Homo sapiens: one gene and its partners. The protein of the gene in region 1 interacts with the protein of each later gene in a pairwise test. Each region holds a gene or a part of one and is shown on either strand. Other genes may lie near its edges. The genes, in order: DCLRE1B, ELAVL4 and COMT.

The links.
Region 2: the proteins of DCLRE1B (region 1) and ELAVL4 interact in binary tests that used the Homo sapiens proteins (3 or more experiments, as listed by UniProt).
Region 3: the proteins of DCLRE1B (region 1) and COMT interact in binary tests that used the Homo sapiens proteins (3 or more experiments, as listed by UniProt).

The regions. Positions count from the first base shown.
Region 1 is NC_000001.11:113,908,295-113,912,046, reverse strand, and holds part of DCLRE1B (5' exonuclease Apollo), read right to left. Parts: intron 917-3,752; coding exon 1-916.
Region 2 is NC_000001.11:50,139,768-50,143,519, reverse strand, and holds part of ELAVL4 (ELAV-like protein 4), read right to left. Parts: intron 1,749-3,752; exon of another isoform or gene 1,668-1,748; coding exon of another isoform or gene 1,662-1,667; intron 1-1,661. UniProt on the Homo sapiens protein: RNA-binding protein that is involved in the post-transcriptional regulation of mRNAs. Plays a role in the regulation of mRNA stability, alternative splicing and translation.
Region 3 is NC_000022.11:19,939,799-19,943,550, forward strand, and holds the start of COMT (catechol O-methyltransferase), read left to right. Parts: upstream 1-2,005; 5' UTR 2,006-2,099; intron 2,100-3,752. Other genes in the region: TXNRD2 (thioredoxin reductase 2, mitochondrial isoform 5 precursor), read right to left, coding at 1,903-2,005. UniProt on the Homo sapiens protein: Catalyzes the O-methylation, and thereby the inactivation, of catecholamine neurotransmitters and catechol hormones. Also shortens the biological half-lives of certain neuroactive drugs, like L-DOPA, alpha-methyl DOPA and isoproterenol.

The DNA of each region.
Region 1 (3,752 bases):
TGGGACAGGGGAGAACCATGGCCCATCCAGGCACTCTGATTCCCTGTGGCTTCTGGACCTCCATCATCATCTCCCATGGGTACCAAGGGGGACCCTAAACCAATTTCCTCCCTGGTTTTTTGAGAAATAAACTCCTCATCTGTAGACCTTAAGTGCACTGAAAATCCCAGTGGGGCCGTCAACATAGTCACCCTCTTTTGAGACTCACAGAAAGGCACTGCCTTGTTCCATTCTTTGCTATAGAGATCTGGGAACAACTGCTTCTTGATCCGCAAAGGATGGTGGGAAGGCTGCTTTTCAAGGTCCGCAGGCCAGGGAGAAAGTTTCTCTTTCTTGGCCTTCTTTGAGTCTCTGTCAGCTTGAGATTGATCAGCACTTTCCTCAGGGGATTCAAACACAACACCTTGGGTTCTCGGCCTCTTTAGCCTCCTTTCTAACAGCCAGAGAAGGCTTGGTTTTCTAGAGGAAGAACTCATGTATTGCTGTACAGAGTCCGGAATCAGGGGCACGGAGATCCTGGGGCTCAGACTGTCCTGAAAGCCTCCACAGGGCCGCCGACTTACAATGGGCACCACCTGGCAAGGCTTCAGTGCTGCGACAAAGGCACGAAGCTCGGAGTAAGAGGAATGGTCAGAGTAAGGGATGACGTGGATATCAGGGTGGGAGCTGTGGATTTTTCGGCTTGTGGGAAGGATAGCAATCGTAGGGTGGGTCTGGTTCCAACGCAGCATGTTGGAATGGCAGATCTCCATATGGTCTACTGCATGGATGCGGCCAGCCTTCTCCTCCACTGTGAACACATCTGCCAGGCCCAGTAGCTGTACCAACTCCAGGCGCCGAGGACTCAATACCACCCAGGTCTGAAACTCCAGGGCCAGCTGCTCCAGCAGTGATTCCTTTCCCAGGCTGTAGAGTCCTAAATAATGTTCAATGTATTGGGGAAAGTAAGAGAAGGAAGAAAATTAAGCTATTGGAAAATCCTAATAAATCAACAAAATGTTTAACAAAAATAGATACAATTCATGGAGAAATCCAGGGAGAATATCAAGGAAGAGGTGGCATTTGAGCTAAGACATATGAAAGGGAATGACACAGAATCCACTCATTCATTTAGTTCAACAAAAGAGAGCATCTAGCAAGTTTCAGGCACCATGAAAACTAATAAAGAAAACTGTCAGTCCTCAAGAAGTACTATCTACAAGGAGACCCAGAAAAACCACAATTAAGAGCAACGTTAAAGATATGTGTACAGGCCGGGCACTGTGGCTCACACCTGTAAGCCTACAATTTTAGGAGGCTGAGGCAGGAGGATTGCTTGAGCCCAGGAGTTCAAGACCAACCTGGGCAACCTGGCAAGACCCTGTCTCTACAAAAATAAACAAATAAGCATGTTGGTGCACGCCTATAGTTCCTGGTACACAGGAAGCTGACGCGGGAGGATCACTTGAGTCCGGGAGGTCCAGGCTGCAGTGAGCTGTGATCATGCCACTACCCTCCAGCCTGGGCAACAGAGTGAGACCCTGTCTCTTAAAAAAAAACAAAAAAAGTATACAGTATTGTATCTAACAGGTGATGGAGTTAGGGAACGTTAGGCTAAATCTTAAAGGATGGGCAAGGTTAACCTGGCAAGGAAAGGGTAGAAAGGGTATAGTGGAAAACATTTTAAGAGGGGTCAGTTTGCTGTTACTAAAGTAAAAAAGGAATTGATAAGAAATGATACCAGAGAGGCAAGCAAGGGCCATATAATAGAGCGTCTTATATGTACCGCTAAGAAGCTTGGACTTCATTGTGTAAGTGAAGGGGAGCCACTGAGTGTGAAGCAGGAAAATGGCTAATTCTAATCATAAGAATAATATGCTCAGAGCAGGGCTTTAAAAAGAAAAATATGGTAATAATATTATTTGACTGCCAGGATGAGAAGAAGCTGGAGTGGAAGTTTCAATTGAAGGGCCCAAATAGTACTTACAGAGAAAGAAATGGAGACATTAATTTGGGAAATGGTTATGGTAACAGATATGGGAGATGTTGTTTAATAGCTGTTCTCAGACTTTTTCTGAAGAAGTTTCAAATCCACAACCAGATTGTGAACGCCATAAAAAGAAGTATATATTATTTATATCCACTTTATTCCTGATTATGGTTCAAAATCTCACTCCTTGGGCACAAATGGAGCGGATTTTTCTTCTCTCTATATATATTCCCACTTCCACCTCCCCACAGGTCCTTCCCTACCAGACTGTGAGCCCTCCAAGTCAGAGACTATATTTTATTCATCTTTATATCCCCACTGCCTATTGGATACTTGGTACTTAGTGGGTAGAGGCTTATTACATATTTGCAAAATTAATTAAGGCTTACTATAGCATCCTCCTAGCCAGCTTTGCTTTTTTGAGAAAATTCTGCATTAAAATATTAAGAATGGTTAGGTCTTTATAAGTAGCTAAGCAATCCTGAGAGTAGAGGATATTTCTCAATCGATTTGGTAGTCACCCTGGAAGTTATATAATTTTTTCAATGCCTTTGTTTAGTCTCATTTTGAAACTCCTTTCAGAGTTGAGACATGTCCTTTTCAAATATTTATAATGGTGGCAAGTCTTTGTCCTTTTGTAGACTCACAAATTTGGAAACAACCAAAAAAGTAATTTAGAACCAAATCTATTACATTTATTTATTTTATAAAACAAAAATGTATTTTCATAAACTATTCCAAATGGCAACTCCAAGAAAGAGTCCTCAACAATGTTTTATACTATTTATAATCAGTACAACAAGCACAAACCTGTTTTTTCAGTATACTTAATTTAAAGCACAACGCTCACTTAAATATCTATGTTCTGATAAATTTCATTCATTCATATTGAATGCTTCTGTGTCAGGCATTAGTGTAGGCATTTGTGATACACCCATAATAAAACAGAGACTGCCATAGTGGAATTCACATTCTAGCAGGGGGAATCAGACAATAAAAAGTCCAATAAATACATAAATTATAGAATATATTGCAAGGTGATGAGTGCATATTGTCCCTCTTCTACTTAAAATCCTTCAATAGCTCTTGGTTGGGTTTAGGATCAAGTCCAAAATGGCTTAACAGCACTTCAGCCCCTCTTGCCTTTTCAGCCTCCTTGCCCACTGTGTGCCTGTCATACTGACTGCTGCTTCTCTGTTCCACAAACACACAAAGTCTCTTCCCATTTCCAGTGATGCTCTTAAGGAGTTTATGCTTGTGTGTGTGTGTGTGTGCACGCGTATGTGCATGGGCCAGAGGAAGTGCATGATAGACAACAAGTAAGCAATAGCATATTTAAAAATATATATAGTATATGAGTGCTATAAAAAAATGAAAAAAATGAATTGGTATGGATGATCAGGAGTTGGGAATGGGGATGGTGGGCAGGTTGCAGTTTTACTTATTTCATTCATTCATTCATTTATTGAGACAGGGTCTTGCTCTGTCATCCAGGCTGGAGTGCAATGGCACTTACATGGCTCACTGCAACCTTGACCTCCTACTGGACCCAGGCAATCCTCCTGTCTCAGTCCCCTGTGTAGCTGGGACCACAGGCACGCACCATCGTGCCCAACTGATTTTTAAATTTTTTGTAGAGACAGGGTCTTGCCATGTTGCCCAAGCTGGTCTCAAACGCCTGGGCTCAAATGACCCTCCCATCTTGGCCTCCCAAAGTGCTGGGATTATAGGCATGAACCACCACACCTAGCCAGGTTGCAATTTTAAATAAGGTGGTCAGTGT
Region 2 (3,752 bases), about 64 Mb from region 1:
GATATGACTTATGTAAAGCACCAGAACAGTGGTGGGCACATAACCACAATCACTGATGTTTATTAGTTACTCTGCCAATCATCCAATGTGACTTCTCTCACTGTCTCCTCACAAGAAGGCAATGAAGCATATTCTAATATTCTCTATGTCTTATAGATGAGGAAACCAAGGCATAGCAGACATCTGATAACTAGTAGCTTCCATTATTATTACCATTTGCCTGCTCAGAGGATTTAGGGGGGAAGCATTTTCATTTACTATAACATACATGTAATAAAGTGTATAAATCTTAAGGGTACAACACAAAGAATGTTTACAAAGTGAACACAATTCACAACTGGGTAATTACCTTTCAGATCACAATACAGAACATGACTGGCACCCCAAATGCCTTTCTCAGGTTCTCCATCCCTGTCATTTACCTCACCCCTCAAAGGTAACCACTATTCTGAATTCTAGTCCACAGATTTGTTTTACCTATTTTTTTACCTTTATATACATGGACTCATACAACACATACTCTTTTGTGCCTTTTCACACATGTATGGAGTGTCATCTGCTCTGTTACATGTAACAATGCATTGTTCTTCCCACTGCTATAGCAATTTCCATTGTGTGGAAATATTACATTTTATTTATCTGTTGATGAACATTTGGATTGTTTCTAATTTTGAACTACTATAGATAATGCTGCTATGAGCGTTATGTACAACATTTTGGTACAAAAATGTACATATTTCTATTGGGGATAGTCCTAGGATTCTGTTTTTGGGATCATAGGGTGTATGTATATTTAGCTTCAGTAGATACTGCCAACAGTATTTCAAAGTGGCTGTATCCATTTATATTCCCACCAGCAGAGTATGAAAGTTCCAGTTGCTCCACATCCTCATCAATGTTCAGAGACTATTTTTTGTTTTTGTTTTTGTTTATTTTCTCATCTGAAGCAGAGTGGTATAGTAAAAATGGAATGAGTGTTTGAGTCAAGACAACAGGTGATTTAAAATCTGAGTTCTAGGCCAGGTGCGGTGGCTCACACCTGTAATCCCAACACTTTGGGAGGCCGAGGTGGGCAGATCACCTGAGGTCAGGAGTTCAAGACCAGCCTGACCAACATGGAGAAACCCAGTCTCTATTGAAAATACAAAATTAGCTGTGTGTGTGTGGTGGTGCACACCTGTAATCCCAGCTACTCGGGAGGCTGAGGCAGGAGAATCACTTGAACCTGGGAGGTAGAGGGTACAGTGAGCCAAGATTGCACCACTGCACTCTAGCCTGGGCAACAGGAGTGAAACTCCGTCTCAAAAAACAAAAAAACAAAAAACTTAGTTTTACCACTTATTAGCTGTGTGATCTGAGGCAGGTTACTTCAATACTCTGAGCCTCAGCTTCCTCTTCAGCAAAACTGGAATAAAAAGCTTGCCACGCAGGGTTATCTTCAGGATGAGAGATAATGTACATTAAATGTCTAAAATACAAAGGGCCCAGAGGCATCATAACTATTATTCCTCATCATGCCCCACGTAGGTGAGTGTTATTCTAATTCTTTCATCTTCTGATGGTCACAAATGATAAATGAAACAAAAAGGAAAACATGGCTCAAGAGGAGCCAAGGAAATAAAGCAGACTAAGAAAGATGGGGAGCATCTAAGATTCTTTACCATCATGTAAGTAATTTAAGTGGCTCCACTTCTCCCATCACCAGAATTTTCTTCTTGGCTTCAGGTCAACTTTAGGATTCTAGAAGGCTGGTCCAGACAGCAAGGAGAAAGCAAAAAGCTTCTGAGAAGAATCTTAAATCAAGCTCCCCTCAGGACTGATAGAAGTTGTACCCAGCAAAGCCTATTCAGCCACTTTGCCTTCGAGGCAAGGGTCCAGGAAAAGAATCAGGGAGATGGTCCCCAGGGAAGGAGGCATGCTAAAGGGATGGCATTACAGAGCATCAGCACAACTCCTGGCTAGGAGGCAGGTTTCAGCTCTGCCAAGCTGTGGGGCCTTCTGGGTCTTTGCAGTGCCTCCATTTGCTGTGTTGTCTCACTGCTTCACTGAGTCAGGTGTCCAGGCAACAAACATAAGAAGCACTGCCAACTCGATAATGAACATGAAAATCAGAATTTATCCATTCAGGAGGCCGGACTACTACATTCGATTTAATGGCAAAAACCCCCCAGGCCCACAATCTTTAGAAACTCTTCTCTGTTTTCTACCTTTTTCAGGTTACCCTTCTTTCAGCTCCCCAACAAACACCTAGAAAATATCCCACACCAAGGCAGCTTATTTGGTGCTAGTGATGGAGTATGTGGAAGAATTTCATGTTGAGATTCTGTGGGACCAAAACTCATAAAGGTCACCTGATAGTCAGGTTCATCTTTCGTTTTCAGACACGTGGTGAAAGCCAGCACTTGTCCATGTGAACATCTCACAGGTCCACCTCCTCCAGGAAGGCCTGTGAAGTAACAAGGCTGCAGCAAAGTAATTTCAGTCCCCGCATCAGCTTTGTGGCCTTCCTTGCATTCTATGTGGATTTCCTAATCTATGTTGACTCCAGGAGGTGAGTCCTGTCTGTAGATTAGACAGCCCAACTGGTCCCAACTAGCTTCTAAAAGGAGCCATGAGATACAATGCTCACTACTGAGCTACTTTAGCTGACCACATCTATAAATTAGGTCAAGTCATTCTCATCCAATGTAGATGGAGCTCTCTTTGCTCTGCATCTACACTACACAGTTATTCTTTTGTGTATCCAGAAGGAACTGATGAAAACACACAAATGGACACATACAAAGAGAGTTTTCTCAATAAAAGTGTGCTGTCTGAAAGCTGAGAAACATTTGCAAATGTGTTAATATACATCCTATAATAAGACCCCTCACAGGTCTTAATGATGCATCTTAGGATGCAACACAGGCTGAAAAAAAAAATCAGAAATGTAAAACATCAGAATCAAATCTGACATGTGAATGAAACAAGAGGATTTTAAAACATTACCTGGAAAATAAGAGAAGTTGCCAAGATGTAAAGATATTAAATGCACGAATATGAAACTACAGCATTTTAAGGTTACATGATAGACCTCAAAGACAGGACACCTGTTCTCTCTGCTTGGGAAACAGAGGGACAGAACAGGAGTAGAAAAGATGTGTGTTGGTAGAAAGCACATCCTCCAGTAAGTACAGAGGCTGGCTGGGCAAAATCAGAACACTTGCTTCCTCAGGCTAACGCCTTTGATATTCTAACAGCACAATTTTCATTGCAAATAAATATATCAGTTACTCAAGTGTGCATATGTACTTTAATGAAACATTCTGTGTGGGTCTCACAGCCAACTTTGCAGCTGACCAGGTTCCAAGCCCCTGACTTGCCCTCCTTTCCTCATTTGAATAGCAATTAAGAACAGAATTACAGTCAGCATCCAGGATAGATCATTGAGGAGGTTCAGTTGACTTCGAACTCTAATGGATGTACAAAGCACTACATTAAATCTTTTATGTTTCTGTGATATATTTTAAGAAACATTATACAGGCAGAAAATTTCAGGGATAAACTATTAGAGCGGTGCACAATAACGTAGGCACTCAAATCCTGTCATCGTAAATGTCGATGGTTTGAATGACTAATTACTCACACTCAATGCATTAACCTCACCCCTCCCACCACTCTTTTCTGCAAAATATACAACAAAAGCAAGAGGGAAGGCTTCAGACGTGCAGCTGCCGGATCATCACCAGGGTCGTTTATATCTGCAGAGGGGA
Region 3 (3,752 bases), on another chromosome or scaffold:
TTCTCCTTTAAGACAAATAAAAAGAGGAGTAATAGGAGATACCCCATACTTTCAATATAAACCTGTAGGAAAACCATATCCTAAAAATTTTGAGGGCCCATCTAAAACTTCAATTTGGGAATGATTGTGTTAACTCACATGCAGTAGTATTAAAAAATGACTCGGCTGGGCGCAGTGGCTCATGCCTGTAATCCCAGCACTTTGGGAGGCCAAGGCAGGTGGATCATGAGGTCAGGAGATTGAGACCATCCTGGCTAATACAGTGAAATCCCGTCTCTACTAAAAATACAAAAAAAATTAGCCAGGCGTGGTGGCAGATGCCTGTAGTCCCAGCTACTCGGGAGGCTGAGGCAGGAGAATGGCGTGAACCCGGGAGGCGGAGCTTGCAGTGAGCTGAGATCGCACCACTGTACTCCAGCTTGGGCGACAGAGCAAGACACTGTCTCAAAAAAAAAAAAAAAAAAAAAACCCCAAAAAAACAACTCATATGGTTTAGTAACAGACTGGGCACGAAAGGGCTATTTAAAAAACAGTTGCTCCTCTGGCGGAAAGGAATGCCTGGAGACTACTTATTTTATTTCTTACTGGGAGGACCAGGATCATCATCCTATTTTGCATAGAAGGTTCAGTTTGTTCTTTCCCTTAAAATAGGAAGATAAGGGCATTATCCCCCTAAGTCTCGTATGATATTCCCCATTCTGAGTCCAGAATACCTAGAAATTTGGAATTTGGCTATTGCCGTGTCTGGACTGTGAGTATGGGAAGGGGAAGCTTTTCTGTCTGTTGTCCCCACTACCGCCCCTCACATCCGTGATTCTGAACCCCATGATAAATGCCCTTTGAACCTTTTTCCTCCTTTTGATGCCGAATCCCCTTTTATGGGACTCCGCCAGCACGGGTGCATTTAACCTTCCTGAGCTTGCCCACCTGACGCATGCAGCCAAGAAGCTTTGAAAGATGGAGTGCCCTGGCTGAGGGTTCCAGGTCTCAGCAAGGCCACGAGGTGGTGACTGCCTCCCAGAACTCTGTTGGGCCACCCTCCGTCCTGGAGACCCCCAAAACCTCCATAGCACCAACTCTGCCCATTCACACACACAGTCAGCCCTCCCTCCCGAGTCCACCGCGGGCAGAGGGCCAGCCACCATGCCTCCCATAGCCGCCATCCCTGGGAAGGAGCCCTGACCCCGTCCTTACACCCCTCTACACTCACTGCCTGTGGGGAGAGCTGCTCGCTGTCACAAGCATCCAGGGGGCTGGGTCGAGGGGCCCCCTGCATGGTGGGGGACCATGTTGTCGTGCATGGAATGAAACTGGCCACACATAACAGATATGGTGGCGCTCTGGTCGGATCTAGGGGAGTCTGTCCTACAGGATGAGGCTTGAACTGTCCTGAGTGACCAGACACCCAGCCTCTGCTTCGAGTGCTCAGTTATGATTATTGTCCTGATTTAGTTAACTGTTCTTCAGGGGCTCCAGGAGGACGAGTGTGTATCCTCCCATTGCTCTGTGCAGCCTCTAACCTCTAGAGTCTAGGGGTCTGGGGAGAAGTTGGGAAGTCTGGCCAGTGGGGCCGGTGCCTGGTGACCTCGGGAGGTGGGATATCATCATCTTCAGAACTGTAGTTGTTACTGGGATACCAGCTCTGGGAGACCACAGGTGCAGTCAGCACAGCAGGACCTTAGACAAGGCACCCAGCCCCAGTTTCCCCACCTGGGAAGGGGGCTACTTGTGGCTAGAAGCAGCCCGGACTCCTGAGCAAGACTAGACCAAGAGGCCGGTATGTGGACACCCCCGCGTGGGCACCCCCACGGGGACACCCTGGCCACCGCCGCGCGGACACCCTCACGAGGACACCCCGGCCGCGCGGACACCTACCGCGGGGACGCCCCGACCCCATCCTACCTGCTGCGCCCCGCGCCGCGCCCCGCACCCCGCCCGCCACGGCCTGCGTCCGCCACCGGAAGCGCCCTCCTAATCCCCGCAGCGCCACCGCCATTGCCGCCATCGTCGTGGGGCTTCTGGGGCAGCTAGGGCTGCCCGCCGCGCTGCCTGCGCCGGACCGGGGCGGGTCCAGTCCCGGGCGGGCCGTCGCGGGAGAGGTGAGAGCGCTGGCTAGACCGGGGCCGAATGCGGCCGGATTCGGGGCGGGGGCCTTCAGACCTAGGGTGGAACACTGGGATAGGGTGTGGGGAATTCGGACCGCTGTGAAGTGATCTGACGTTGGGTGGGAGTCTCCGGACTTGGGGTGGGGAATCTGGATGGGAACTGGGGAATTCGGACCTTGGGTGGGGATCTTTGGACCGGGGTGGGGTCCCCAGACTCCTTGTGGAAAGCTGAGGTTGAAGATCTGTGCTGTGATGAGGGGCTCCAGATAGCGGTGAGAGATCCCGCTTCAAGACTGGGTTGGGGGTCCAGACCAGGAGGATAAGCCTCTCCCTGGAGTAGGGCTTGACCTGGTGAGGGTGTGGTAGAGTCACAGGGGAGGGTCCCACTTGGTCCTTGGGCTGGGATCAGACTCTCAGAGCTGGAGAGTTGCAGGAGGCCTGGGGGAGGGTCTGTGGAGCCCCAGACTCAGAGGGCCTTGGTGACTTCTCCAACAGGCTCCCTGTTGGAGGCCTTGGGGTACCCCAGGGCCTTTCCCTGCAAGAGAGAGGCTGCTCCACCAGGAAGGGGCCCAGGACTCCCCAGGGTCGGGGGGATGTGTGGTGTGCAGGACCACGTGGGAATGTTAGAGAAAGGGGAAGTCACTCCGGGCCTGCCCTGCTAACAGACCTGCTTTTTGGATTTTTCCAGCCAGGGATTTTTGTGTCCTGTTGCTTTTTATTGTTTAAAGTGACCCTCCAAGCCTGAGGGACCGTAGGAGCTGCCCTGCAGAGCCCAGTGAGACACTAGTTAATGCAGAAAAAACAGATTTTACTTGGTAACTACTGACAACATGAGAAAAAGCTGGCTCCATGCTGATTTGTCTAGATGTGCCTGGAGTTTAAAGGGAGAGTGAGGGAGTGGGAAGGGGTGGGGACTCAGTAGAGTTAGGGAAACAGAAAATCACCAAAACTGGGAAGGGAGGGTTGGCCCCTGTGAAACCAACTGATCTGGGTTTGCCACTGGGGCTTACCGAAGTCAGGCCCCCAACCTCCCACAGAGACTGGGAGACAGGGGCCCCATCCTCAGGTGTTGGCTGGAACACACAGGAAATTCTTGTGGCAGCCTTGAACTTCTCAGGCAGGCACTTTAGAGGGGGCTAGGATCGTTCTGGGAATGTGGCCTTGAGCTGTTAGGAGCTATGTTAGTGTTCGTTCCAGCCTAGATAGGCCAGGGTGAGGCCCAGTGGAGAAGGGGACTCTAAGGAGCCTGGCTGGAGTGTGGGGAGGGAGGGTCTTTGTCAGCACTCCCCCTGTGCAAGAAGAGCAGAGACCTGCTTCTTTCCTCTCAACAGTCCCCGTCCATTTTCTGTTCTGTGTTGTGTTCATAAACTACCAGCGGGACCATCTGTTGAGACTTGGTAGCAAAGGATTTTTGCTGGATGATGCAAGCAGTCAAGCATTTAATGAGGAAACAAAAATAACAGGCCAGGCACAGTGGCTCATGTCTGTAATCCCAGCACTTTTGGAGGCCGAGGAGGATCACTTGAGGCCAGGAGTTTGAAACAAGCCTGGGCAACATAAAGACCCCATCTCTACAAAAAATTTAAAAATTAGCCCGGCGTGGTGGCATGGGCCTATAGTTCCAGCTACTTGGGAGGCTGAGGTGAA